Homo sapiens: one gene and its partners. The protein of the gene in region 2 purifies or fractionates together with the protein of the main gene of each other region. This does not show direct contact. Each region holds a gene or a part of one and is shown on either strand. Other genes may lie near its edges.

Region 1 (7,709 bases), on a different chromosome or scaffold from region 2:
CGTGTGTCAAAAGACAAAATTATAACACATTTAGTTATAAATCTAATTGGCTTTTATTTGAGATTCATGAATCGGGGCAGCTTCCCTTCTACAACATGGAGTAAGAGCTTCCATTGGCCAACGGCAGACAGCGGCTTTTGTGAGATGGGAACAAGGAAACGGAACCACGGGAAAAACGTCAATTGGTCACCATCGTGTTACCTCCTTTGGTAAAGGTTAAAGCAGAGGGGACTTCCTTATCACACTGACTTAAGTAGACTGGAATCTCCTGTTTTCAGGAAAAACTTGTCTGTTTGGGATCTATCTGCTTCCTTAAGGGTTCGGTTTGATGATATGTGGCGTTTAGCATGAGTGACTCCATCTTGCTTTGCTGTGGTCTGTTGGAGCCTAGTGTAGGAGCTCAGTCCAAAATAATGGGTTCCCATAATTTTTGTTTAACAAACACTTGTGCAATTGCAATAATAACACAAGGGAAAATGGGCAGGGCAGGCATCCCAGGTAGTGTCAATGTATTGTTGAGGAGTGAGTGTGTGTTCACAGACAGAGGCGTGCAGGCAGGCAGGACTTTCGAGCAGGTACCTGGGTGCAGCCTCCAGTGGGTATAAAGGTGAGTCGGGGGGCTGGAGCCAGAGGCCAGCCATAGCCACAGCTTTCTTTCATTCATTAAGCCTTTACTGAGTACCAAGGAGAAAGGGAGTGACAGTTGAAAAGTTATTCTTACTCTTTCTTCCTTTTTTTTTTTTTTTTTTTTTTGAGACAGGGTCTCAATCTGTTGCCCGGGATGGAGGTGCAGTGGCACAATCATGGTTCACTGCAGCCTCGACTCCCGGGGCTCAAGTGATCCTCCTACCTCAGCCTCCTGAGTAGCTGGGAGTACAGGCGCATGCCACCACCTGGCTAATTTTTTGTTTGTTTGTTTGAGATGGACTCTTGCTGTGTTGTCAGGCTGGAGTGCAGTGGCATGATCGTGGCTCACTGCAACCTCTGCCTCTCAGGTTCAAGCGATTCCCCTGCCTCAGTCTCCCAAGTAGCTGGGACTACAGGTGCATGCCACCATGCCCGGCTAATTTTTTGTATTTCAGTAGAGACTGGGTTTCACCATGTTTGGCCAGAATGGTCTCGATCTCCTGACCTCAAGTGATCTGCCCACCTCTACCTCCCAAAGTGCTAGGATTACAGGCATGAGCCACCGTGCCTGGCCCAGGCTAATTTTTCATATTTTTTTGGAGAGATGGGGTTTCTCCATGTTGCCCAGGCTGGTTTCCAAGCCTGCTCAAGCAATCAGTCCTCCTGCCTTGGCCTCCCAAAGTGATGAGATTACAGGCGTGAGCCACTGCGTCCAGCCTTGAAAGTTTTACATTGTGCTTTTTGTTTTTCCTCCAGCTGGTCTGAGACATGTATCTGAATGAAGGGACAGTGAGATTTATTGCAGAAGGAATGCAGTGACAACGAACAAGGTAAGAAGATTTTGAATGACAAAAAAAGATACCAGCCTTGCAAGCAGGCTGCTGTTTTGAGAGGTTTGTCTAAATTCCAGGATTTATCCCACTCATCTTAGTTAGATTTAGCTACTGTAAAAACACCAACAGAGTATTGGCTTAAATAAGACAGAAGGGTATTTCTGTCATTTAAGAGTCTGGGCTGGCCGGGAGCAGTGGCTCATGCCTGCAATTCCAGCATTTTGGGAGGCTGAGGTGGGCAGATCAGCCTGATGACAGAGCAAGACTCCATCTCAAAGAAAAAAAAAAAAAATTAGCCTGGCGTGGTGGTGGGCGCCTGTACTCCCAGCTATTCAGGAGACTGAGGTGGGAGTTCGAGACTAGCCTGGCCAACATGGTGAAACCCTGTCTCCACCGAAAATACAAAAAATTACCAGGCGTGATGGTGGGCGCCTGTAATCCCAGCTACTTGGGAGGCTGAGGCAGGAGAATCGCTTGAACCCGGGAGCTGGAGGTTGCAGTTAGTGTGCGGAGATCACGCCACTGAGCTCCAGCCTGGATGAGAGTGAGACTCTGTCTCAAAAAAAAAAAAAGTCCAGACATAAGCAGTCCAGGGCAACACTAGTCTTGCTGTTGGGGACCTAGGCCCCTCCCAGCCCTTCCACAAGTGGCTTTCATCTCATGGTCTCAGATGGTTGCTGCAGTTCCTGCCATCACATCCTTGCACCCAGCTGGCGACCAAGAGAAGCCAGGAAGGAAAGGTGGAGGGCAATGCCCCCTTTGTTTTGCAGGCACAACCAGAATTGCACTTCTCACTTTGTTTCTTGTTTCATAAACCACAGCTTACTTGTAAGTAAGTACACGTGGAAGGTCTAAGTTCTGCCTCTGGGGAATGCTGTCTTCATCTGGGCTACCATGTAGTCAGCAAAAACGTGGGGCTTCCGTTCCTAAAGGACAGGCTCGGAAGGAATATTGGGGACAATTAGTTCCTGCCACACTCTTCAGCATATCAGCAACCAAGCCCGGGGACCAGGTGGTGTCCACTCACCTGATTCTCATTTCCGGCTCCCCCGGAGGCCATGAAGGAGGAGGCAGAGGAAGGCAGAGCAAGCAGGTGTGACTCTAGGTCCCCACTCCGGGCGCTCTGGGCATGGCGAGGGGGGGTGCAGAGGCAAGTGCATGCACTGCGTCACGACCTGCAACAGGAAGCTGATGGGACAGCATGGTCAGGCAGGGAGACCCGAGGCTCAGCTGTCCCAAACCAACCAGTACTGGTGTGGGCAGAGCCCAGGACAGCCAAGAGCCTGCAGGGAGGTGTCAGAGGGGCCCCTGTAACAGGGCAGGGTGGCTCTGCCGAGGCTGTAGTTCAGATTCACAGGTAGGGATGCCAGATTTAGCAAATGCATAGACAGCATCCTAGTTCAGTTTGAATTTTAGATAAATATGCAATAACTTTTTAATATAAGCTTGTCCTATGTCCCAGGCATCATTTATTTGGAATTCAAATTTAACTGATTGCTCTGTATGTTATCTGAAAACACCAGAAGGTTAGGGTTTTAGAGGGCCCACTCAGGCCTCAAACGGATCCAGAGCCCCAGTATGAGCCAATGTGAGCTCAAGGCAGACAGGGCCCCTCCAGGCTTGGCCTGACATCCAGAGAGACCACGAGCCACAGGGGCTAACAAGAGGCCACAAGGCCTAAGTCCTTTCTGTCCTCAGGGGCGTGCAAGGCTGCCTTCACTTTCTTGCTCTTCTAGACCAGGTGCCTACTCTTTGGAAAGGAGAGAAGAAAAGGGAGGTTTGGGCATATTTTCTCCCAGAGACTGAGCATTACCCAAAGGCTGTTCAAAGTATCCCTTAGAACTGTGTTCTAACCTGGGTAGGATGAAAGTTTATCTATTTTTATTGCTAAGCTGCAGGTGAGGGCTTGGGAACACCTGGTTACATGCACCCCAGATCAAGACTGTCCACGTCCGGTGCACCCCTGAACACAGCAGGAGGGAACTTGGGGATCCACTGCCCTCGCTCACTGTAAGCTTCCCAGGACTGAAGCCCCAAAGAGGAGCCCTCTGCCTTCTCTGTCCTCCCCATGGGTCAGCGTGTCCTGCTTCTGAGTGGCCCGTCCTTCCTGCCTAACTGGCTGGCCTGCACCATGGCCCATATTCAACAACCTTAGTCATAGTTCCCACCATTGGCGTTTATGGAAGCTTGGAGCCTCATAAAGTTCAAAGTCTGCAACAATAATAAAGGCCCAGTCAACTTGGCTTGGGCGGCAGCTGCAGCCCAGCACTGGAAGCTCCTAGCTGTGGAGGGGCGTTGGGGCCTGGAGGGAGGAGAGCCTTGGTTTGCCCTGTGGGGCCCAGCCTTGAGTTCTGGCTTCTCAGGGCTCTGTTCTATCATGTTTCCTGTGAACTCCTTTTGTGCCTAAGACGCTGGGCAGTGCCACTCTTGCAGAGGTGCCACTCCAGGCCCTGCACGCTTAGGGGTAGAGCAACTACTACTGTTGGGCACAGGCGTGGGGCTGTAGAAAGAAATCCGTGTTTCACTGGAAAACTATGCATCCTACATAGGACACCAGCTTCCACATGGCCCGATACTAACCTACTAACCTTTCATCTTTTTTTTTTTTTTTTTGAGACGGAGTCTCCCTCTGTCGCCCAGGCTGGAGTGCAATGGCACCGTCTCGGCTCATTGCAGCCTCTGCCTCCCGGGTTCCAGCGATTCTCCAGTCTCAGCCTCTCAGGTAGCTGGGATTACAGGCATGCACCACCACGCCCGGCTAATTTTTGTATTTTAAGTAGAGACGGGGTTTCACCATGTTGGCCAGGGTAGTCTCGAACTCCTGACTTCAGGTGATCCGCCCGCCTCGGCCTCCCAAAGTGCTGGAATCGCAGACGTGAGTCACCGCGCCCGGTCTGAAAATTATCTTTTAATAGGGGTTAGCTGCATGAGTTAAAATCTCATTGCCACCATTTGCTGACTTTGTGCCCTCTGGGAGATTGCTTAATCTCTCTGGGATAAACCTCGGTTTGCTTGACAAAGGAAGCTGGTGAGGCTAAAGAGAGAACTCTAAGATTGGGGCGTTCCGAAGCCTTCTAGAGCCTTCTAGCACCCTGGACTCATAGCCAATGATGGGCAACAACAAGAACGACGACGAACCCTGGGCTCGGAACTCGCCCAGGCCCCGCCCCTCACAGCCCCGCCCCGTCCTCGGCCCCGCCCCCGGCCTGTCGCCTCAACAAAGTCCCCGCCGCGCGGCCGCTGGCCGGGAGTCAGCTCGGAGTCCCGTCCCAGCGCGGCGTCAGCGCTGCGCACTTCCCATTGGCCGAGCGCGGCGCGGGGGCGGGCCCGGGCCTGCGATTGCCTCTCGGCGTGCGCGGACAGTGTCATGGAGGCCGCGGCGGTGACGGTCACCCGGTCGGCTACACGGCGGCGGCGGCGGCAGCTGCAGGGGCTGGCGGCCCCGGAGGCGGGGACGCAGGAGGAGCAGGAGGATCAGGAGCCGCGGCCGCGGCGGCGGCGGCCGGGAAGGAGGTGGGGCTGCGGGGCCCGCGTGAACCCCGATCCGCGGGGCTGAGAGTCCGTGGCCCCGGGGCCCGAGGTTTCCCGGCACGGGCGCGCCGAGGGGCGGGGGGCCGGCGCCTGTGTCCGCTCCGTGCACAGTAAGGGACAGAGGGTGGCAGCGCCCCTCCGCCCCGGTCCGCCCCGCCGTCCTCGCGCCACTGCCGGGCAGCGGCCTCCGGCCCCCGTGCGTGACCCCTGCCTATCTCAGAAATACGGGTGCAAACCCGAGTGGCCGCGGGGCCCAGCGGGAATCCCGACGCCCCGGCCAGACCCCTGCTTCCCACGTCGCTGGTCTATGCGGAAGATCCCGGCGGCGGTGCTCATGCCTGGCTCAGTGGATGCCGGCTGGTGGAAGGGGTGGCCTTCTGTAGGGGTGACACTAGAACTGAGTCTTTGGGGAGGAGGAAGCCTTCAGTAGGTGGAGAATAGGGAGTAGGGTATCCAACTGGCGGGGAACAGAAAGGGCCAAAGCACAGAGACAGAAAGGGACGAACATGCCCCTCTGGGCTGGGCTTCCTTCCTTTGGGGGGCACTTGCCCACCCGGTAAACTCCCCCTCAGTAGGTTGCAGGGGGAGAAGTTAGGAGCACAGACATGGCTTCCGGAAACAGCAGCCGTAGCTTTGTTTCTAAACCCAAAGCAGTGAGACTGCTGAGCATTTCAGACCTCATGAAGATGGGATGAAGGCTGGCTGCTGGGAAAGATATTTTTGGACAGGAGGAATGTGGAGATGGCTCTTTCCCTCCTAGTGGAGGAATGACAGGTGACAAAGGTGACCTGGTGTGGGATTGTTCTGAGAAGGTCTGGGAGGGGGTGGCTGAAGTATAATAAGGACATCAACGAGGAAGGGGGCTTTGGAAAAGGAAGGTGGAGAGGAACAACTGCGGCATCTCTGCTTGAATCCGTCCCCGACCCCTGCAGTTCTCAGGGTCTCCCAATGTCATTCTGGAGGCCCTGGGTCAGTGTTTGGTGATGGCAGATGCTACAGAGGACTCTTTGCAACAGGCCTCTGAATGGCAGTGGAGTGATGGCAGATGACAACTCAGTGAACAAAGAAGTGGCCTTGGGCGTTGGTAGATTTAGGGAATCTCAACGTTGGTGCCATGGCCTCTAAATAGCCACTGCGGTGTCTTCTTACTGCTCCTAAAATAATAATGATTTTTTAGGCCAGGCATGGTGGCTTATGCCTGTAATCTCAGCACTTGGGAGGCTGAGGCGTGTGATCACCTGAGTTCGGGAGTTTGAGACCAGCCTGGCCAACATGGTGAAACTCAGTCTCTACTAAAAGTACAAAATTAGTCAGGCGTGGTGGCAGATGCCTGTAATCCCAGCTACTTGGGAGGCTGAGGCAGGAGACTCACTTGAACCCAGGAACTGGAGGTTGCAGTGAGCTGAGATTTCACCACCTTACTCCAGCCTGGGCGACAGAGCGAGACTCTGTCTCAATTAATCAATCAATTTTTAAAAGAAAGTGGTTTGAGATGTATTTAGGAGCTTTCCATGTTAATGTACCGAAGGAACGAAGGAACTCTTTCTCCCTGTAACATACATCCATGAACAGCGCGGAAGGCACTTAGGGAAGTGTGGCCTATAGAGGAAGCCTGGTCTCTGCTCTCTTAGGACCTGAAACTTTCTGGTGCTTTGGGTATTTGGATATTGCCCCTTGGCCATAGAAAATCCTGGGGACCCTGTGAAGTATTTATGTCTGGTCTTTGTGGTATTGGGGTGGCTGCTTTAGAGGGTAAGGTTTATTCTATTTATTTATTTTTTTGAGATGGAGTCTCGTTCTGTTGCCCAAGTTGGAGTGTAGTGGCACAGTCCCGGCTCACTGCAACCTTCGCCTCCCAGGTTCAAGTGATTCTCCCTGCCTCAGCCTCCCAAGGTGCTGGGATTACAGGCGTGTGCCACCATGCCCAGCTAATTTTTGTATTAGTAGAGATGGGGTTTTGCCATGTTGGCCAGGCTGGTCTTTAACTCCTGACCTCAGGTGATTCGCCTGCCTTGGCTTCCCAAAGTGTTGGGATTACAGGCGTGAACCACTGCGTCTGGCCTAGGGTAAGGTTTATTCTTAGGAGTAATCATTGGTACGTGTGTCCATGTGGAAGCCAAGCCCTGGTTGCTAATATAGGTAAAACCTTAGGATTATCACAGGGCACTTCCTTGCTTTATACAATGTTTCTATAGTTAATATTAAACAACATAAGGCAGAGAATATCTCTCTGTGTTTAGATGAAACTGGTCCATTTGCTTCTAAGTGTTCTTACCTATTTATGTTTTTATTTATAAATGTACAACTCCCTCTTTGCTTAGCATCAAAGATGAAGAAGAAGAGACAGTCTTTCGAGAGGTGGTCAGTTTTTCCCCGGACCCCCTGCCAGGTGAGGAGACAGAGGCTCTGAATACCGATCCACCTTCACACCTGGGGCTTTGGGGCAGGTCAGCCCCTGCCCCCTCTCATGTTCCTTCTCTGTTATTGTTAAAATGTTTCGATTAATCCTATAATAGTTTCCATTAATTGCTCAATGTTTCTGTCCTCGGACCAGTTAGATATTATGACAAGGACACCACCAAACCAATCAGCTTTTACTTGTCTTCGCTGGAGGAGCTCTTGGCGTGGAAGCCCCGCTTGGAGGATGGCTTTAATGTGGCCCTGGAGCCCCTGGCGTGTCGCCAGCCCCCTCTGAGCAGCCAGAGGCCCCGGACTTTG
Region 2 (7,261 bases):
GGTGACAGAGCAAGACTCTGTCTCAAAAAAAAAAAAAAAAATTAATAGGATACAAAACCAAAGTGATAAAGATGAATGAGAAAGTAAAGAGAAATTATCCTGACATTAAGAAGTAAAGAGTAACCAAAAAAAGTTTAAATCATAAGAAAAACAGTAATTCATTAAGAGGAAGAGAATAATCATTTCACACTCTATACGTATATGAAAACATCATGTTGTACACCTTAAATACACATAATTTTGTTGTCAATTATATCTCAATAAAGCTGGAAAGAGGAAGAGATAAACTGCAAATGAAAGTAATAAATAGGCTATTAAATTGACAACTTGTGAATTATATAAACTCATTGAAAAATATTCAAATTTCTTTCGATTTGATCTCACACTAGCATTGAGGAAGATAACATAAAACTCACGCCTATAATCCCAGCACTTTGGGAGGCTGAGGCGGGTAGATCACCTGAAGTCAGGAGTTCGAGACCAGCCTGGCCAACATGGCGAAACCCCATCTCTACTAAAAATACAAAAATTAGCCGGGCATAGTGACGCATGCCTGTAATCCCAGCTACTCAGGAGGCTGAGGCAGGAGAATTGCTTGAACCTGGGACGTGGAGGTTGCAGTGAGCCAAGAGCGCAGACAGATCAAGACTCCATCTCAAAAAATAAAATAATACAAAATAAAATGCAGAATGTCACGAAATGCCTATGTTAAGAGGATATTTGATAGAGTTTTCTGAAATTTGACAAAAATACTAAACATATATATAAAACCAATAATGAACTGAGGTGAAAAATAATTTTTCTGAATTATCACCAATAAAAGGCAAATACTGATCAAACACACTAGAGAAAAAACTAAATTATCTTTCTATTTTCTTTAGAAAATATTATAAACTAACATCATATGAAGAGATGATTAAAGAGCACATAGCCATATAATGTAAGGGGAAAAAAGTATGAAGAAGTATGCCTGGCAGTTACTTAATAAAAATATGTTACGTTAAATTTTTGCATTATTTGTAATATTTTTCAACTTTTAAAAATTTATAACGTTATATTTTGTTTTAGTCTAAATACATATTCAGTTGTGTACCTACTTTTGTATCTAAAATTGTTATTCTTTTTCTTAAGGAGCCTCCACTCGCCAAATGCACATAAACTTCAGGCCCCACAAAATTTGAATCTGTCCCTGTTATCCACTTTTCTCTCTACCTAATTGGTCTACCCTCACCCATGCTTGTCCTCTTCCAATCTGTTCTTCATGCCACAGTCTAAAGGATCTTCTAAAAGTTCATGTATGATTATATTTATCTTACATTCTTTCAGTAATTTCCAATTAGCCTTACTATAAAAACCCAAGTCCTTAAAATAGGATCTGGGTCCTCACCACCTCTCTCCCTCTGCTCTAACCACACTGGCTTCTTTTAGTTATTGCAATGCACCAGCTCAGAACCTTTGCATATGCTGTACTCTGTGCTTAGGAGACATTCCACCACCCCAATACTCCATTAACAAATTATCTCCTACTCAAACTTCAGATTTCACTCAAAGATCACTTCCTCAGGGCACCTTAGACTAAATCAGCCTCCCACCACCTTAAATGCTCATTGCACCCTTTACTTTTCCTTCATAGCATGTCTATTTGTAATCATATACAAGATACAAGATTAGATTGTCCATCTCTCTGCCATTAGACTGCAAATTCCATGAACGAGGGACAATGTCTCTTCAGCACTAGTGTAGCAGTGTTACCGGAAAGGGGTCCTGATCCAGACATCAAGAAAGGGTTCTTGGATCTCGAGCAAGGAAGAATTCAGGACAAGACCATAGAGTAAAGTGAAAGAAAGTTTATTAAGAAAGTAGAGGAATAAAAGAATGGCTACTCCATAGGCAGAGCAGCCCGAGGGCTACTCGTTGCCCATTTTTATGGTTATTTCTTGATGATATGCTAAACAAGGGATGGATTATTCATGCCTCCCCTTTTTAGACCAGAGAGGGTACCTTCCTGACATTCCCATGGCGTTTGTAAACTGTCATGGCGCTGGGTGGGAATTTAGCAGTGAGGACGACCAGAGGTCACTTTCATCACCATCTTGGTTTTGGTGGGTTTTAGTCGGCTTCTTTACTGCTACCTGTTTCATCAGTAAGGTCTTTATGACATGCATCTTGTATCTTGTATCTTTATGACCTCCTATCTCATCCTGTGACTTAGAATGCATAACCATCTGGGAATGCAGCATAGCAGGCCTCAGGCTTATTTTACTCAGCCCCTTTTCAAGATGGAGTTGCTCTGGTTCAATCGCCTCTGACAGCAGCATCCTGAACAAAGTGGGCAACTAATTACACAATTTCTGGCCTCAAATAGTTTATAATCTAACCTTGAAAAAAATAGAAAAGAAACAATTTTACAATTTGGGGCTTCGATACAGATGAAATAGGTTATTTTTTTGTGCAAGAAAGTCTTCCTGGAAGTCTTGAAACCTGAATACAGAAGGATTAGTTATTCTAACCAGCTTGAAAAATTGGCCTAGGCCAAGGCTGTAACCAAGTATTCTGGTTGTCTAGGAACTGCTCTGACCACACTTCCGGCATAATTGTTTCTTGCAGAAAAACTACTTCAGTTTTTTTAAAGCTTCTTTTGCCTTCTGTAGGCTTACTTAAAAAAAAAAAGTATTAAGATCCTTTTGTGGTTCATAAGCCTGATGATTGGGTTTTCATGCTATTGTGTGAGTTACCACCCCTACCTCAAACCTTGTTAGGACTCCGCGCATTACCCCTCTGTGTGAAAAAAACAAAGTAATAAAGGTAATTTTTTTTTTTTTGCATAAGCCCTATCCTTGTACACATCAGGTTTCAACGTGTTTCCATCATTATTTTTACCTTATAGTATAGTGTTTTCACGAGTTTTTTTTTTTAATACTTTAAGTTCTGGAATAGTTTTCACGAGTTTTAAGAGACTCTTCTTGGCAAACAGTTCAACTCAGAGAAAATACTTTTACCAGCAAGGAGGTATACCTTGTTATATCGGTCTGGGGATGTGACTTGACAGTTCACCTTGCCAGGAATATCTCTGTGATTTTTTGTTTGTTTGTTTGTTTTGAGACAAGAGTCTCGCTCTGTCCCTGAGGCCAGAGTGCAGTGGCTCACTGCAAGCTCCGCCTCCCGGGTTCAAGCGATTCTCATGCCTCAGCCTCCCGAGTAGCTGGGATTACAGGCGCCTGCCACCACGCCCAGCTAATTTTTGTATTTTAGTAGAGACGGGGTTTCCCCACGTTGGCCAGGCTGGTCTAAAACTCCTGACCTCAGGTGATCCACCCGCCTCCCAAAGTGCTGGGATTACAAGCGTGAGCCACCGCGCCCACGGTGGGCGGTGAGAGGAGAGGGGCAAAGTCTAATTATTCCAGAGCGACCACAGAAATATCTGGAGCTAGTTTCAAGGGCTATTCCCCGCTAAAGATTACTTAATAATGCAGTTGGATGACCACGTTTCAAGATTTTTGTTCGATCTGCACATCCTCCAACATGTTCCAAGAGGGTGTTTAAAAAGTCACCAAGGACCATTAGGATAACCATTAGGATAAAGCTGTCAGGACATCCCTAAATTGTTTGAAACTACGATGTCTGCTGAGGAAAGAAGAACATAATTAGGCTTTGGAGTTAAGAGAGCTAACCAGTTCCGAATTTAATGTCTGAGCCAAATGAGAATGTTAAGATTTATCTCACAAGTTGTAGAGAAAATTAAAAACGATTAAACATCCGGGCCTTGAATAAGTGCCCGTCGACTTGGGGATTAAATATGGTAGAGTCCACTTTCCTCACCAGCTGATGATAATTTCTGTTATGTACAGTCCTCCTTTCTCTTCCTTTATCGGTTGGTTAGTATTTGCCAACTCTTTCCTGCTTTTCATCTTCTCTTCCCCCCATTTAAATCTTTCCACCAAGCGCTCAGAAACACGTACGTCCTACCAGAACGCAACCCGAGCCTGCGCGAGAGGTACGTACAGGTCTTGACCTTTTCCCGGTTCTCCGCCCTTTTCCCGGTTCTCCGCCCTTTTCTCCGGTTCTCCGCCCTTTTCTCCGGTTCTCCGCCCTTTTCTCCGGTTCTCCGCCCCTTTTCCGCCACTGCCTGATGCCTCCCTCCAGGCTGCGCCAGTCCGCAGCCCCGCCCACGCCGGCCGTCACGTGACCGCGCAGCGTGCTCCGCCCCCTGTCCCTGGCTCACGTGATCGCGCCTAGGGAGAAAACGTCTGACTCCAGCCACCGGCCTTCAAGGCACGGCTTTTTATTCCTTCGGCTGGTCGGCCTCTCGCCCTTCAGCTACCTGTGCGTCCCTCCGTCCCGTCCCGTCCCGGGGTCACCCCGGAGCCTGTCCGCTATGCGGCTCCTGCCTCTAGCCCCAGGTCGGCTCCGGCGGGGCAGCCCCCGCCACCTGCCCTCCTGCAGCCCAGCGCTGCTACTGCTGGTGCTGGGCGGCTGCCTGGGGGTCTTCGGGGTGGCTGCGGGAACCCGGAGGCCCAACGTGGTGCTGCTCCTCACGGACGACCAGGACGAAGTGCTCGGCGGCATGGTAACTCTTCTGTTTCTGCCCCGCCCCTCTATCTCTTGGGCTGACTACCCGGTTTGTTGCTCTCTTTCCCGGTCCCCACCACCCTCCTCCCCGAACTGGCTGTCTTATCCTTGGGTAGGTTTGGTTTTCCCACCTGAGGCCCTTTATGCCGGTGTAAGGGACTGCAATACTCTTTTCCTTTCTGGATTGAGGCACATGCGTACAGCACACAGAGCTTCTAGTCTGGACCGTACTGCTGTGGAGTTTACGTTAATATCTCAAGATAAACATGTGGAGACCAGTGGAGGATGGGTTGAACCAATGAGGATCAGGTGCTGTCTAAGAGCACTCAAGGCCTGATTGTTTTTCTTTTGGATTAGAGGATCACAGACAAGTCCAGTCCCCTTTATGAGGGACCTAGACCACCTCCACGTTTGTGCCTGTATACAATGTCTGTATCTGATGTCAATAAAAATAAGCCTGGGCCGGGCGCGGTGTGTCACTCATGTAATCCCAGCACTTTGGGAGGCCGAGGCGGGCGGATCAGAAGGTCAAGAGATCGAGACCATCCTGGCCAACATGGTGAAACCCCGTCTCTACTAGAAATACAATAATTCTAGCTGGGCGTGGTGGCGCGCAGCTGTAGTCCCAGCTACTTGGGAGGCTGAGGAAGGAGAATCGCTTGAACCCGGGAGGCAGCAGTTGCAGTGAGCCGAGATCGCGCCACTGCATTCCAGCCTGGCGACAGAGCGAGACTCCGTCTCCAAAAAAAAAAAAAAAAAAAAAAAAAAAAAAAGGCCTGAAGTGAACTAATCTGGTAGGCCGACCGTCGAACTATTGAGGGTGTGTGTTGCCTCACAAGAATCAAGAAAATTCAATTAGTGTGATTGAACACCTGACTGTTGCATTAGAGACTGTCAGTGTTTCATTTTCTATCTAATGGGTGTTGTCACAAGACTTCATTTTTTTTCCAGAGTAAATTTTGCTTGTGTATTGCAGAATTATGGAATGTGTGACCTTTGGAAACATCCACTCCAACCCCTTCCCCATGGAGGCCCAGAAAGCAACTTGCCCAAGACATGAGTAGTTGAGGCAGAGTCCTCTGACCCTGGGTTCAGCATTCCTCTCTTCGCTTTAAAACCAAATGCTTTATTGCTTTCTTCGTTTCAGTTCTCTTTTTGCTTTCAGCTGAATGCTGAGACTATGAAATACTCCAGGCAAGACGTTCCTAACTTTTCTTGTGTAGTTACACACCCTAGCTCAGTGTCCTTCAAACCTCTGGTCCCAACCCTTGAGTGAGTTATGAAATCAGTTTAGTGAGTAACTACCAACATTTTTTATTTCCTCTGGAATAGAATAGAATAGAAAAGGTCCATGTGTGTGAGTGTGTGTGTTACACTTGATAAAGGTAATCATTATCTATCTCTCTTTCTTCCCGAGTTGTAAAATATATTTCTTAGGTTGATGCTCAAGAGCTTGAGAGTCTTTTATAGCTGATGTTTTAAGAGGCTTGCATTTTGACTACACATTTCTTCCTGCCATATATGCTTCATTGTCTGTTAGTTTCTACCAAGCCATGTTGACATTGGTCTTAATTTAATTTTCCTCCTACACTTTAGGTTCACTACTCTTCCAACTACTGCACTTACTTGTCTGCTCACAAAATTCCTTTTTTATTAAAAAAAAGAAAATGTGTCCTTGAAGAGTGTTTTGTCCAGAAAAAGCAAGCCTTCTCTAGCAGTGACTTAAGTACTCAGTTAAAAGGTCAGGCTTTTTTAGGTGTTGAAAACAAAATTGATTACTTAAATATAAGGTATTCAGAGTTGTTTCTTCAATTCTTATAAACCACAGCTGTAGTCTGTGTGTATTTGAGGTCTCTTTAGTATGTTAATCCAATTTGCTTCGTTAAGCCAGTAGCAGATTTTTTGAGTCAGGGTCTTGCTCTGTCATCCAGGCTGGAGTGCAGTGGTACAATCAAGGCTCATTGCAGCCTTGAACTCCTAGTCTCAAGCAGTCCTCCTGCCTCAGTCTCCCTAGTAGCTGGAACTACAGGCACATGTCACTACGTCCAGCTAATTTTTAAATATTTTGTAAAGACAGGATTTCTCCATGTTGCCCAAGTCGGTCTTGAACTCCTGGACTCAAGTAACTCTTGAACTCCTGAACTCTTGAACTCCTGGACCTCAGCCTCCCAAAGTGCTGGGATTACAGGCATGAGCCACTGTCTCGGCCCAGATTCTTTTTTTTAATAAGTGTTTCTACTGGAGAGAGGTACCAAAATTGAGTGGAGGGCATAAGTCAAACTTAATGTTCCAAACTCAAGAATTCTGGCTTCTCTTCTAGGCTTTTTCAGAATATTCTACCACTAATTGTCAAACAGGACTCCAAGGGGAAGAGCTAGGACAAGAGCATTTGAGAACTTACTTGGAGCCGAGCAGAGTATGAGGATTTTTATACTTGTGCTTCAGTCATCACAGGAGTCCTCTGCTGTACATAGTATCCTTATCTTAAAAGGAAACTAAAACTGGAAGGTGGTTAAGTGACATGACTAAGTTCATATAGCTAATATTGGACAAAGCCTGGGTATCTTATGACCTCAGATCACCATGCTTTTTCTCCTATTCTAGAATACTGTGATAATAATCAGATTTCATTCCACATACCCACACCAGCATAATCACACCATAGGTCAGAGAGTCTGCAGGTGACATTCGG
Region 3 (7,023 bases), on a different chromosome or scaffold from region 2:
AAAAAAAAAGGCCACATTTGAGCTAGGCCTTGGAGGAAATATTTTTCGGAGCTGGGAATGGAATTCCAGATTCAAGGACATTCCAAGAAGGAGAATAGTATCAACACATGGCACATTGTGGAAATGCGTGGTGTGTGCTGGGAAACATAAGTGATTTAAGATCTGGGAGTGACATGTTCACACTTTTTAATGTAACACTTTTTAGATGAGTCTTTTTTTGTTTTTGTGTATTCATACAATGAGTGTGTGTGGCAAGGTGAGGGGCACAGAGAAATAACACTGGGCTTTGCCCTCAAGAAATTTTCAGTTTCACTAGAAAGTTATGGCGATTAGAATTGTCTGGGAAACAATATAGATGTTTAAAAATTTAATGTGTATTCCCTCTGGTTATAAAAATATGATTCTCATTGAGAAAATTATCCTAATAGTTTTCTGCGTGGGTTATGATTTTGTAACAAGGAAGCAAAATGTTTTAGTCTGCTTTTATCTTTTAGAAGAGTTATTTGAAAGGCATTTAGGATCATGGGATGCTAAGATTGTAGGTGGCATGTCTGTACATATGGATAAAGTCAGTCTTGATTTCCTGTCTGAGGAGGTTTCTGACTGGTAATGCTTCCCTGGGCAATGAGGCACAATCGAATGCCGTCTCTTCCATGAAACCTTTCCACCTCCTACAAAGAAGTAGTTTTTCTATCCTCTCAGTTCCCATAGCTTATTTTGTTGTTGTTTGATGACAACTTGTATATTTTCTTCAATATGGTGCTAGTGTTTTTTTGTTTTGTTTTGTTTTGTTTTTGAGACGGAGTCTCGCTCTGTCACCCAGGCTGGAGTGCAGTGGTGCAATCTCGGCTCATTGCAACCTCTGCCTACTGGGTTCAAATGATTCTCCTGCCTCAGCCTCCCAAGTAGCTGGGACTACAGGCACCTGCCACCACGCCTGGCCAATTTTTGTATTTTTAGTAGAGACGGGGTTTTACCACGTTGGCCAGGATTGTCTCGATCTTTTGACTTCGTGATCCACCTGCCTCTGCCTCCCAAAGTGCTGGGATTACAGGCGTGAGCCACCGCGCCCAGCCCTAATGTAGTGCTAGTTTTGTAGTTGTCTGATATTCTACATTGGAAGCATTTTTAGATGTTTTAATCTCTATATCCCCCACGTGCCTTATACATTTTAGGCATTCTGTAATAATTTCTTGAATGACCTGTGTTTCCTTTTTTGGTGGATACAGTATTGAGAAACTGCCTTGGGAATAGAGAAGGTCACATACTTTTTCAAGAAACATTTGTAAAGTATTCTTTTGCTGTATTCATCCTCCTAAGAATCCTGTGAGAGAGATCATCTCCCACTTTACAGATGAGGCAACTGAGGCTTAAAGGAATCATATAGCTCAGAACTGCAAGAAACTTTGAATGTCATTTCATCTATGATTAGTGTCTGTCTGTAGAGGCAGGAGGGTGACAGAATGGTATAGATAAATAAGCCCTGTATAGATAGATAAGGCAGGAGTTTGTGGACAGATCCAGAGAGCATGCTTCTCTTATTCACCCAGCTTTCTCATGAACCTTTAGCTTATTTTATTTTATTTTTTATTAGAGGGGACTCAGAACAAGAGCCTTTAGCTTTTAATGTTAAGGTTGAGGAGAGGAAAGAAGGAAAAGGAGAAGTTACACAAAAAAGTTACGTATGAGCTGATTCTATTTTTGTGTACAAGACAAAAATCTTACGGTAGCAAGTGAAAAAAAGACAAGACTGGCTTAAGCAGGAAAAAACTGGAAGGGACATTTATAGCTCCCCTAGTTGGGAAGTTCAAGAGTAAATATGGCCCCAGACACACCTGGATACAGGGCCTCAGGCAGCATCTCCAAGGCCTTTCTCTTTGGCTATCTCTTGGCTCTTCTGCATAGTCGGCTCCATTGTCAGGTAATGTCCCTTCTCCTACTGATAAGATAACTAGAAGAGAAAAAGTTCTTTCCTGGTAGCTCCAGCAAAAGTTCAAAGATGAACTTTGATTGGGTCTTGGGCCTATCCCTAATTACATCTCCGTGGTCAAAAGAATGCTATGGTTGGCCAGGCTTGGTGGGGGTTGGGAAGTAGGATAGAGTCATCCAGTACCCCTGGGCCACTTAGAAAGCTTAAGAAATGGTTTTGGAAAGGAACTTCAGTATTTTACAAGAAGTAGAGGGATTGGGTGCCGGATGGACCAAAATAGCAGTGCCCACTGCACATGGCCTAAGTGTGTAGCCCACATATGGTTCTGTTATTCCAATGAATAATAGAGTCATTCTTTACTTCACTTATGCTTCTGGCTTGAGTGGCAGTGGCAGAAGCTGTGGTGTGGCAGGGAAGGGGTTATCTCACCTTCAGATTGGAGGAGATATGGATTGTTTGAATTTGAACCTTCAGTGAAGAGTTGACTAAAATGGTCCTTTTTATGTGGCTTTGGATCCTACAGAGTGAGACACTTGGTTCTCTGGTTTTCACTTGAATGACATTTGACATTTGTAGGACAGAAAACTTTATTTCATTAGTATAAATGAGAAATTATGATCCACTCAGAGTGATCCAGGCTATTTTTATCTATAGTCTCCAGAATGGAAACTTGGCTTATTCAGCACTGGCTATCTCTGATGGTTAATGAAAGAAGGAAAAAAAAAAAACTCGGCCGGAAGTTCACATGGAAGTCATGATTGCATTAGCATTGTTGGTACTCACCTTGAGGGAGAAGAAGATGAGAAAAGTTAGATAATTGTAAAAGTTCATTAGGTACAATGGGCACAGCTTCCTGTGGTCCTTTGAGCTGAGGGATGAGCAACTGTTCTCCTAACAGGAAGTATTTGCCACAGGAAAGCTTTTTCTTTAAGTCTTTTATGAAATCTCTTATTAGAGCCTCTTAATCATTTTAAGACTGCTCTTGAAACTTTTGTCTGATGTCTTCAATTTTTCTACTTCTTTGTAGAGCTGCTTAAAATGTTGATTTCTCCTTTTAGGACTGGGTTATCTTGTGTCCCAGCACTTAGAGTATAGTGAGAATAATGGACAACCTAGTTCGGTCCTTGACCTACATCTGTTAGACAGGTTTCACTGTGATGTTGACATGTTATGCATGTCTAGAACTGTTATAAATTAAATAGCATTTTTATAATTATGCATAATTCAAATGATAAATTCCTCATTACAGTCATGACCTCATTCAATTGGTAAAGATTTTTGTGTCTGCTGTGGACCATGCACCATGCTAGGCAGTGGGGATATAGAAATAAAAGATTCATTTCTGGTCCTCAAAGAGCCTAGGTTCTAGGGAAGATGAAAACACAGAATTAAGATACTTTGGGTGGGATGCGGTGGCTCATGCCTGTAAGCCCAGCACTTTGGGAGGCTGAAGCAGGAGTATCACTTGAACTCAGAAGTTGGAGACTAGCCTGGGCAACATAACAAGACCTCGTGTCTACTAAAAAAAAAAATTAGCAGGGTGTGTTGGTGTTCACCTGTAGTGCCAGCTGCGTAGAGGCTGAGGTGGGAGAGTTGCTTGAGACCAGACGATCAAGGGTGCTGTGAGCTGTGATCACGCCTCTGCACTCCAGCGTGGGGTGACAGAGTGGGACTCCATCTCTTAAAAAATATATATATATATATATGTATATATATACACACACACACTCTCACACACACACACACACACACACACTGTGTGTGTGAGGGCACATGAGCTAGAGGGATATGCAGGCAGGAAAGGCCTCCTGGAGGAGCTGATCCTTGAACCATGACAATATTTACCAAGAGACAAAGTGGTTTATGGAAATGCGGGTGAAAGACAGGGCAAGAGAGAGTGTGAGAGATGAGCTCTGATGTTTATATATGTTATTCTGAAAGGCGATAGGAATTCCTGACAGTTTTAAGTAGGAAAGTAGTATGGTCAGATTGACACTTTATTTTTTAAAACAGGTAGTATATTTACGTGGTTTAAAAATTTAAAAACATATAGAAGAGTATATAGTGAACAATTTCTCATTTACCCAGTAACTTTCCCCTCAGACAACCACTGCATGCATTTCTTATATATTTCCTCAGAGCTATGTTCTGCAAATATAAGTAAATACAAAAATAGTGTACCTGTATCCCTCAACCTACTTTCACGCTAATGACAGCATACCATACTTAGCATTTGTGCACCTTGCTTTGTTCTTGTAGCTCATCATGGTGAGATCTTTCCATATCAATATATCAAAAGCATCCTTTTTTATCCCCCTCTTCTTTTTTCTTTCCTATGGCTGCTTAATTTTCCATTTTATTGAAGGCCCACAATTTACTTAAAATGAGCCTGCTATTGATGGACATTTAGATTGTTTCCAGCCCTTTTCAGTTGGAAAATTGCATTGGGTACAGTAGACTAACATTTTCAGAAGGATTAGTAGGGGCTTAAATATTTGTTGAATGAATTATTGAATGGAAGATAGATGACTTGGAAGCAGGTGGGGATGTGAAAGGAGACTGAAGACAGGAACACCAATTACAAGGGTTCTGCAGTTATCTGGGGGTAGAAAAGAGGGAGAGATTAGAGAGATACATATTTAGGAAATCTAGTGAGACTAGGTGGCCTGTGTAATATTGGGAGTAGGGGATGTGAGTAGTCAAGGTTGATTTCTTGGGATAGTAGTAATACATTAGACAAATAAAAACACATTTATTACTAATTTATCATAAATGAAAACAGCACCATTTTTATTGGGAAGTACACGCATAGAATCAAAGCAGCCACCAGCAAGGAAAGCCAGTAGAAATGGAAAGTAGAATCAATGACTGTGGATTCCTAATTTCTGTTTCTTCTGATGTTATTTTTCTAATGCTTCTGCCCGTATTGCTAAGTGACTCTCTTTTTTTCCAACTAGTCCATCTCTCCTTGACTTCTTTTTTTTCCCCTTTCTAATTTGAGCCCTTGTTTTTTAAAATTTTATTTTTAATTGACAAATAATTTTATAATAATTTGTGGGGTACAACGTGATGTTTTGATATATGTTTACATTGTGGAATGAGTAAATCAAGCTAATTAACAAATCCATCAGCTCACATACTTATATTTTTTGTGTGGTGGAAACATTTAAAATCTATTTTTTAATAATTGCGAAATATATAATGCATTACTTATTATAGTCACCACTCTGTGCAATACATCACTAAAGCTAATTTCTTCTATCTAACTGAAATTTTGTACCGTCTGATCAACATCTTTCCTTTCCCCATCTTCCCCTCTCCCCCAGCCTCTGATAACCACCATTCTACTTCAATTAGTTCAACTTTTTTAGATTTCACATATGAGTGAGATCATCAAGGCATTTGTCATTTTGTGCTTGGCTCATTTCACATAGCATACTGTCCACTAGGTTCATCCATGCTGTCATAAATGACAGAGTTTTCTTCTTTTTTTTTCTCTTGAGACGGAATCTAGCTCTGTTGCCCAGGCTGGAGTGCAGTGGCTCCATCTCGGCTCGCTGCAAGCTCCGCCTCCCAGGTTCACGCCATTCTCCTGCCTCAGCCTCCGGAGTAGCTGGGACTACAGGCGCCCGCCACCAACGCCTGGCTAAGTTTTTGTATTTTTAGTGGAGACGGGATTTCACCGTGTTAGCCAGGATGGTCTTGATCTCCTGACCTCATGATCCCCTTGCCTCGGCCTCCCAAAGTGCTGGGATTACAGGCGTGAGCCTCCGCACCTGGCCGAGTTTTCTTTTTAAGGCTAAAAAGTATTCTGACATTTATATATATATGTATATATAAACATTTTCTTTATCCATTTATATGATAAGGGACATCTAGGTTGCTTCTGTATCTTAGCTATTGTGAATAATGCTGCCATGAATTTGGGAGTGTAGATATTTTTTCAGCATACTGGTTTTATTTCCTTTGGCCATATACCCAGAAGTGGGATAGCTGGATCATATGGTAATTCTGTTTGCAGATTTCTGAGGAACCTCCATATTGTTTTCCATAATCACTGTATTAATTTACATTCTCACCAACTGCAGTAGAGTTCCTTTTTCTCTACATCTTCTCCAACACTTGTTATCTTTCATCTTTTTGATGATAGCTATTCTAACAGGTGTGAGGAGATAGCCCATTGTGGTTTTAATTTGCATTTTCCTGGTAATTAGTTGTGAAGAGCATTTTTTCTTATATCTGTTGGCCATTTGTATGTCTTTTGAGCAATGTCTATTCGGGTCCTTTGCCCATTTTTAAATTGAGTTCTTTGTTTTCTTGCTATTGATTTGAATTCCTTATATATTTTGAATATTAACTCCATATAAGATGCATGGTTTGCAAAGATTTTCACTCATTCTGGGATATCTCTTCACTCTGTTGTTTCCTTTGCCATACAGAAGCCTTTTGGTTTGATACAATCCTATTTGTTTATTTTTGCTTTTGTTGCCTGTGCTTTTGGGGTCAAGTCCAAGAAATCTTTGCCAGGCCTGTGTCATGGAGCTTCTTTTCCCAATGTTTTCTTCTAGTAGTTTTACAGTTTCAGACTGTACATTTAAGTCTTTAATACAGTTTGAGTTGATTTTTGTATATGCTGTGAGATAAGGGTCTAATTTCATTCTTCTACATGTGGATATTCAGTTTTCCTAATACCGTTTATTGAAAGATTGTCCTTTCTCCATTGTGTGTTCTTGGTGCCTTTGTTGAAAATCAGATGATGGTAAATGCATGAGTTTATTTCTGGACTCTCTATCCTGTTCCATTGGTTTTTGTGTTAGCTTTTATGCCAGTACCATGCCATTTGATTAGGTTTGTAGTATATTTTGAAGTCAGATAGTGTGGTACTCCACCTTTGTTCTTTTTGCTCAAAATTGCTTTCGCTCTTTGGGGTCTTTTGTTGTGCTGTACAAATTTTAGGATTTTTTTTTCTATTTCCTTGAAAAATGACATTAGAATTTTGATAGGAATTACATTTGATAGGAATTACATTTGATAGAAATTACATTGAATCCTGGCCTGGGATTAATTTCTTAATATCTTTTTCAGATAGTTTG
Region 4 (7,082 bases), on a different chromosome or scaffold from region 2:
GAAAGTTCCACTGGATTAATTTTAAGAATGCCCCCAAAGGATTCAGAGGGAAGGGTGGTAAGTTAGCACCATCTGCTGACCATCTCCCTGAACATCAGGATGAGGAACAAGAGGCAGTCTAATTGAGGACAAGGGGGATCTCATGCTATCTAAGGTTACCTCCAGCCCCCAAGGGCAGGCCCAGGAAAATGATGAGCGCCTCGCTGTAGTCCTCTTGGTCACCCTACAATACCAAGGTTGGGCAGTGACTCCCTGAGGAAGAAAGTAGTAGCAGTTGGAAGGAGCCTAAAAGAGACCTTGAGAAAAAAAGGTCCAGACTTCTATCAGCACAGTGGAAACATATCATTTCTGCAAATAAATCTTAGCATCTCCTGATTCTAGCATCCAGCAATAAAAACAGATTCCTGAGCCCTCCTCCAGACTATTTTGTCAAAATCTTTAGGAGAGGGGCCTAATGTATTTTAACAAACAACCAAAGTAATTCTTTTTTTTTTTTTTTTTTTGAGCCAGAGTCTCACTTTGCTGCCCAGGCTGGAGTGCAGTGGCATGATCTCGGCTCACTGCAACCTCCGCTTCCCAGGTTCAAGCGATTTTCCTGCCTCAGCTTCCTGAGTAGCTGGGACTACAGGCACACATCACTGTGCCCAGCTAATTTTTGTATTTTTAGAGACGGGGTTCACCAGGTTGGCCAGGCTGGTCTTGAACTCCTGACCTCGTGATCCGCCAGCCTCAGCCTCCAAAGTGCTGGGACTACAGGCCTGAGCCACCGCGCCCGGCTACAACCAAAGTAATTCTTAAGTAAAGGAAAGATGGTGGGTCACTTCCTTAATAGGAGGGCAGATTTTTATTCCTTGATGTGAGATGTTCCTGGGTAGGGGGTAGAGATTCTGCAGACCCCTAAAATCTCATCAGCTTTTGGAATAAGATATAGAGAAGTAATGGAAACCCATATGGTGATTTGGATTTAAGTCTGGGTTCTGCTGTGACCTTGGGCAAGTCACTTAAACTCTCTGTGTCTTGATTTTCTCAGCTTCAAAACTGGAATGCTGATAATAACAATATATCATTTGGTTGTTGTAATAATCAAATGAGAAAGTGGATGTGAAAACCCTTTGTAAGTTATAAAGTTCAATACGATGTGTTAATATTATCTTGAGTTCGCACCACCTACAGATGCAGGTCCTTATCTTTTAAAATACTGAGTTCCTCAATATTTATATTTATATCCTTCCAGGGATAATCAATGTCTGCTGATATGAAGGAGCAGGGTTTGGCCATGAAAAAAAAAGTCTTTATTCAGAGGATACAAAGATTCCCAAAAGAATGATGACTCTCTGAGAAGATGTGCCAGAATTTCTGGTGGAGGAGAGGAGAAGCGAGATTTTTTGTTGTTGTTGTTGAGATGGAGACTTGCTTTGTCACCCAGGCTGGAGTGCATTGTCACGATCTCAGCTCACTGCAACCTCTGCCTCCCAGGTTCAAGCGATTCTCCTGCCTTAGCCTCCCGAGTAGCTGGGATCACAGGCGTGCGCCACCACACCCGGCTAATTTTTGTATTTTTAGTAGAGACGGGGTTTCACCATGTTGGCCAGGCCAGTCTGGAACTCCTGACCTCAGGTGATCCACCTGCCTTGGCCTCCCAAAGTGCTGGGATTACAGGCGTGAGAAACTGCGCCTGGCCGAGAAGTGAGATTTTTATGTTTATCGAAAAGAGTCTTGGGTTAAAAAAGAAAAGCTTGAGAAATACAGTTTTAAAGCCAGAAGACTCCAGCTCTATTCTCTGTTTTTCACTTGTTATGTGACCCTGGTCAAGTATCTGCCTTTTCAATAGGCCTGTTTCCTCATCTAAAAAAATCAGGGTTAATATTGAGTGAGTTAAGACTCATGGACTCTAATTTATTAAAATATTTCTTATAGCAACTCATAATGCTGGGAGGTAAAATCAAGTATAAAAGAAAAAGAGGGCCTGCATGGTGGCTCACACCTGTAATCCCAACACTTTGGGAGGCCAAGGCAGGCGGATCATGAGGTCAATAGATCAAAACCATCCTGGCCAACATGGTGAAACCCCGTCTCTACTAAAAATACAAAAACTAGCTGGGCGTGGTGGTGTGCGCCTGTAGTCCCAGCTACTCAGGAGGCTGAGGTAGGAGAATCGCTTGAACCGAGGAGCCAGAGGTTACAGTGAGCCAGGATCGCACCACTGCGCTCCAGCCTGGCCACAGAGTGAGACTCCATCTCAAAAAAAAAAAAAAAAAAAAGACAAAAGAAAAAGTTTTACATAAAATGAAGACATAAAAAGTTATGTGCCTGACTGGGTGCAATGGCTCATGCCTGTAATCCCAGCACTTTGGGAGGCTGAGGCAGGCGGATCACTTGAGGTCAGGGGTTTGAAACTAACACGGCCAACATAGTGAAACTCTGCCTCTACTAAAAATACAAAAATTAACCGGGCATGGTGACGCATGCCTGTAATCCCAGCTACTCAGGAGGCTGAGGCAGGAGAATCACTTGAACCCAGGAGGCAGAGGTTGCAGTGAGCTGAGATGGTGCCACTGCACTTCAGCCTGGGTGACAGATGGAGACTCTGTCTCAAAAAAAAAGTTATGTGCCTTCAGCTATGTAGTTCGCAAAAAGTAAATAACTCAAGGAGTTAACTCCTCCAGTGTAAACTATTTGAGCTGGAAAACTGCACTTGACTTTCTTTTTAAAGCGTCATTAATCTGTCAGAAAACAGCTGAAAGTAGGTGTGATGTGGAAGGGCTGATGTGACCACAAGTATTTGCCATCACTTTCCTGGTGAAGGATCCATTTTCTCACAGGGATAATCTCAGATGGCTCTGGGTTTTTTTTTTTTTTTTTTGAGACGGAGTCTCGCTCTGTCGCCCAGGCTGGAGTGCAATGGCACGATATCGGCTCACTGCAACCTTCGCCTCCTGGGTTCAAGCAATTCTCCCACCTCAGCCTCCTGAGTAGCTGGGATTACAGGAGTACGCCACCACACCTACCTAATTTTTGTATTTTTAGTAGAGATGGGGTTTCACCATGTGGGTCAGGCTGGTCGCAAACTCCTGACCTCGTGATCCACCTGCCTCGGCCTCCCAAAGTGCTGGGATTACAGGTGTGAGCCACCACGCCCAGCCGGCTCTGTGCTTTTGAATTCATAACTTGAGAGGATGGCCTGATAGGAACCTGACCAGAGGTTATCTATGCAGTGCCATCCTTAATCACGGCCGGGTGCGGTGGCTCACGCCTGTAATCCCAGCACTTTGGGAGGGCGAGGCGAGAGGATCACTTGAGCCCAGGAGTTTGAGACCAGCCTGGGCAACATAGGGAGACCTCATCTTTACTAAATTAAAAAAAAGAAAGAAAGAAAAGAAAACCCTCAAGACTTTAAAGCACCCACGGACTAGCAACAGCTAGAAGCTTTATCACCACGAGGCCTGAAAGAACAAGGAGACGGAGCTGTTACCAACTAACAATTGCTGCTCAGGGAACTAACTGACAATACCAACTCCATGTTACAAGTGATGAAACTAAGGAGAATGAGAAGATAAGGAACACAGGATGTGGAATTCCGGGGGAAGAAATTTAGTGAATCTGAAGCATCCAGCGCCTACCAAGGCACTTTAGAGACTTCCCCCTGGAGGGTTAAGCCACCAGCCTCACCTTGACCTTCCCTGCCGCCCACTAAAAGTGACCGGAAGAGCTCGACTATGACGACTCGGGACTACAAGTCCCGGCATGCATCTCTCCGCGTCTATCGCAAAACCTTTCAACTTTAGGATAAAAGGGCTTTTGGCAACCTTGAGCGTCGGGACCTGTAGTCGCCCCAGTTGGGGCTAGACGCTTGCCGTAGGGAACTCATTGGCGCCCAGGGCACCACCCCCTCGCCTTCGCCTCACGTAGCTTCACCAGCTCGCAAACACGGCGCGTGCCCACGCCCTCCGCCCCCTCCCCGGGCCTAGGGCGCAGGCGCGCGCAAGCTCCCCGGGCCCAGTAGGCTGGGGGTGGGGGTAGAAGGAGAAGGAGGGGAAGGGAGGGGGGGGTTGGGTGTCTACTCTGGTGAATAGACGGCTGTGGGGCAGAGAAGCGTGAAGGCCTGGCTGCCGGGCAGGTGAACTCTCCACGGGGTCTAGGGCCCGCGAAAGGGTTCGGAACCGAGTCAGCGCGCCTTGCGGGCAGGATTCACGCCGCTGTGACCCGGAGGTCCTCAGGGGGCGAAGCCCCGGCCTAGGCCTCGCGGAGATGCCCAGCTGCGGTGCTTGTACTTGCGGCGCGGCGGCCGTCCGGCTCATCACCTCCTCACTCGCCTCCGCGCAGAGAGGTAACGAAATAGTGCCACTCCTGAGCCCTCAGCCTGTCGGGGGGGGGGTGGACTGGCCAATGGTTGGGGGCCCCGGGGAGGGCACGAGGCCTGCTGCACCCGGGGAGTGTGAGGGAATGCGCGGCGCTTCGCCCGGCACCCACCACTTTCCCCGTGGAATGGGGCTCTGCCAACCTCTGGAGCAGCCGTTGCTCAAATTGGAAGTAAACTCCTTCCCACGCGCCTGCCTGCACGCTTTCAGGCCTGCTGACTTTGGGGCCGGAATGCGGCCACTTTGTAGAAACCCTGAAAGGCACAAAATGCTCCTGTTATTAAAAAATGTCTCCAGATCCCACTCAGCCCTGCCGGGGACCGCCGCCTGCCATGGCTGCGGCTCTTCTTCCGCAGCCTGGCCGGGATCCCCCTCGGGCCCGTTGGGGGCTCCAGGAGGGGCTCGGCTGAGGATCTGTCCCTACTAGGGTCCCCCAGGACTCGGGGCACCCAGCTGGCCGTCCCGGACGCAAGCCGCGCGATACCCGAGATGTTACTATCACTGTGCGGCCCTGACACTGGGACATAAACAAGGTTCACAATACTTCCCGGCGTCAGGCAAGCCCCGGGGCCCGCAGGACAGCGGCGGGAGAGATGGGGAGAAGTCCCGCAGGAGTTGGTTCGGAAGTACTTGGGTGTTTCAGCAGTCCTTTGCTGGCTTTCCCAACTTGACCGGGAGGTAGTTTCCTAAGAGTGGCGCATGTTGTTTACCTTTTCTTTCTGTTTATCTGAAGCTGTGAAAGAATGGCGCCCCAGCCAAGAGAGTCTGGAAAATAAACTTTTTTTCTCTTCCTCAAATCTGTGGAAGTCAGACCACGAGGCTAGATCCTGTTATAATGACTGACTTCTAGACAAATTCGTTTTATTTTGGCTTATCGGTTTATGACCCTTGGATGGATTTTTAAAAAGGCCCCTTTTATCTAACTTCTAAGCCAATTATAAAATCCTTATTGTTTACTAAATATATCTTCCAGTTTCTTTACTACAGAAGGAAGGATTGAATGAGGTAACGTGGGCAGAAGCATTTTGTAAAATGATATATAAATGTAAGGGAGTAAATTTAATCCTAAATCGATGTTAAGCCTCAACCAGTAGATGTCCCGATTCCAGGAATTCGATTTGCAAACACTTTAAAGTGACATATTTTAATCCATTTATCTGATATATATTAATATTTGTCAAGGGTCCACTGTGTGTCAGGCCTTCTTTTAGTGCTGGAGGTAGAGTGGTGAATAAGTCCTCACCCTCATGTTTAAATCTAGTGGAGTAGACAAAGAATAATACAGTTTCCAGTGGGTGGATGAAGTATGTGTGTGTTCCCTTTGGTCAGGGACGGCTTCTTTGAAAGTGTTACTGATCTCTTGTAGCCAAGAGTCCGTGAACATTTTTGAATCATAGGAGATAGGCAGTTATTTTTTTTTCTTTTCAAAACGACTGTTTTCTTTCTTTTTCTTTTCTTTTCTCCTTCCTTCCTTCCTTCCTTTCCTTCCTTCCTGTCTTTCTTTCCTTTCTGTCTTTCTTTCCATCTACTATCTGTCTTTCTGTCTGTCTTATTTTCTTTCTTTTTTTTTTTTTTTTTTTTTTGAGACAGAGTCTCGCTCTGTCGCTCAGGCTGGAGTGCAGTGGCCAGATCTCAGTTTACTGCAAACTCCGCCTCCTGGGTTCACGCCATTCTCCTGCCTCAGCCTCCCGAGTAGCTGGGACTGCAGGCGCCCGCCACCACGCCTGGCTAATTTTTGTATTTTTAGTAGAGACGGGGTTTCACCGTGTTAGCCAGGATGGTCTCGATCTCCTGATCTTGTGATCCGTCCGCCTCGGCCTCCCAAAGTGCTGGGATTACAGGCGTGAGCCACCGCGCCTGGCCTCTTTTTGTGTGTCTGTCTTGATGGAATCTGCTAAGTTGCCCGGGCTGGAGTGCAGTAGCGCGATCTCGGCTCACTGCAACCTCCGTCTCCTGGGTTCAAGCAATTCTTCTGCCTCAGCCTCCTGAGTAAGCTGGGGTTACAGGCGCGCGCCACCACGCCCCACTAATTTTTATATTTTTAGTAGAGACGGGATTTTGCCATGTTCGTCAGGCTGGACTCCAACTCCTGGACCCCAGGAGATCACCCGCCTTGGCCTCCCAAAGTGCTAGGATTACAGGCTTGAGCCACCGCACCCGGACTAGTATTTCTTTTTAAAAACAGTTGTTCTGAAATTTAGAAAGCTTTGTCTGTATGATAAAGTTCTGTAAATAGTGAAACTTAAATTGTCTTTTCTGGTTGCTGCCAGGTAATCTGGTGAAATATACTTTACAGAAACACTTCTCTTTTTTGGCTTTCAGAGCTTCACCTGGGGTTTACAGGCCTCCAAAGGGTCCTTGAATAGAATTCAGAGATTCTGTGAACTTTATTTTCACTAAGCTCTAACTGAAACACAACGTTTCCTTGGCCTATGAATGTGGGCAACACATCCACAGTAGTCTTAGAAGTGTCTGTGGATTTGTCATCAATCAAAATCAGAAATATTTTCATATCACATTATAGTTGCTGATATTTCAGAATATTGTCCATACTTTTTGCTACTTTGAAATCATAGTAATTATTTAAAAAGCTGTTAGATCTTATTTAATTTTGCTTGTTAATAAAGAGGCATATTTTAAAAATTTTTTGATAACTACTTCATTATAATTTGTTTCCTTTGTTATGTATTTTATTTTATACATTTAAAAATATTATTCTGAGAA

Evidence for each region.
Region 1: the proteins of GNS (region 2) and ENGASE purify together in Homo sapiens (affinity purification with mass spectrometry; 2 studies listed by BioGRID and IntAct, with this or other methods). This does not show direct contact.
Region 3: the proteins of GNS (region 2) and SUMF1 purify together in Homo sapiens (affinity purification with mass spectrometry; 2 studies listed by BioGRID and IntAct, with this or other methods). This does not show direct contact.
Region 4: the proteins of GNS (region 2) and CLPX purify together in Homo sapiens (affinity purification with mass spectrometry; 2 studies listed by BioGRID and IntAct, with this or other methods). This does not show direct contact.

The regions. Positions count from the first base shown.
Region 1 is NC_000017.11:79,070,118-79,077,826, forward strand, and holds the start of ENGASE (cytosolic endo-beta-N-acetylglucosaminidase), read left to right. Parts: upstream 1-4,706; 5' UTR 4,707-4,827; coding exon 4,828-4,973; intron 4,974-7,312; coding exon 7,313-7,380; intron 7,381-7,545; coding exon 7,546-7,709. UniProt on the Homo sapiens protein: Endoglycosidase that releases N-glycans from glycoproteins by cleaving the beta-1,4-glycosidic bond in the N,N'-diacetylchitobiose core. Involved in the processing of free oligosaccharides in the cytosol.
Region 2 is NC_000012.12:64,756,391-64,763,651, reverse strand, and holds the start of GNS (N-acetylglucosamine-6-sulfatase precursor), read left to right. Parts: upstream 1-4,245; 5' UTR 4,246-4,375; coding exon 4,376-4,567; intron 4,568-7,261. UniProt on the Homo sapiens protein: Hydrolyzes 6-sulfate groups in N-acetyl-d-glucosaminide units of heparin sulfate and keratan sulfate.
Region 3 is NC_000003.12:4,457,263-4,464,285, reverse strand, and holds part of SUMF1 (formylglycine-generating enzyme isoform 1 precursor), read left to right. Parts: intron 1-7,023.
Region 4 is NC_000015.10:65,182,320-65,189,401, reverse strand, and holds the start of CLPX (ATP-dependent clpX-like chaperone, mitochondrial precursor), read left to right. Parts: upstream 1-4,059; 5' UTR 4,060-4,248; coding exon 4,249-4,327; intron 4,328-7,082. UniProt on the Homo sapiens protein: ATP-dependent chaperone that functions as an unfoldase.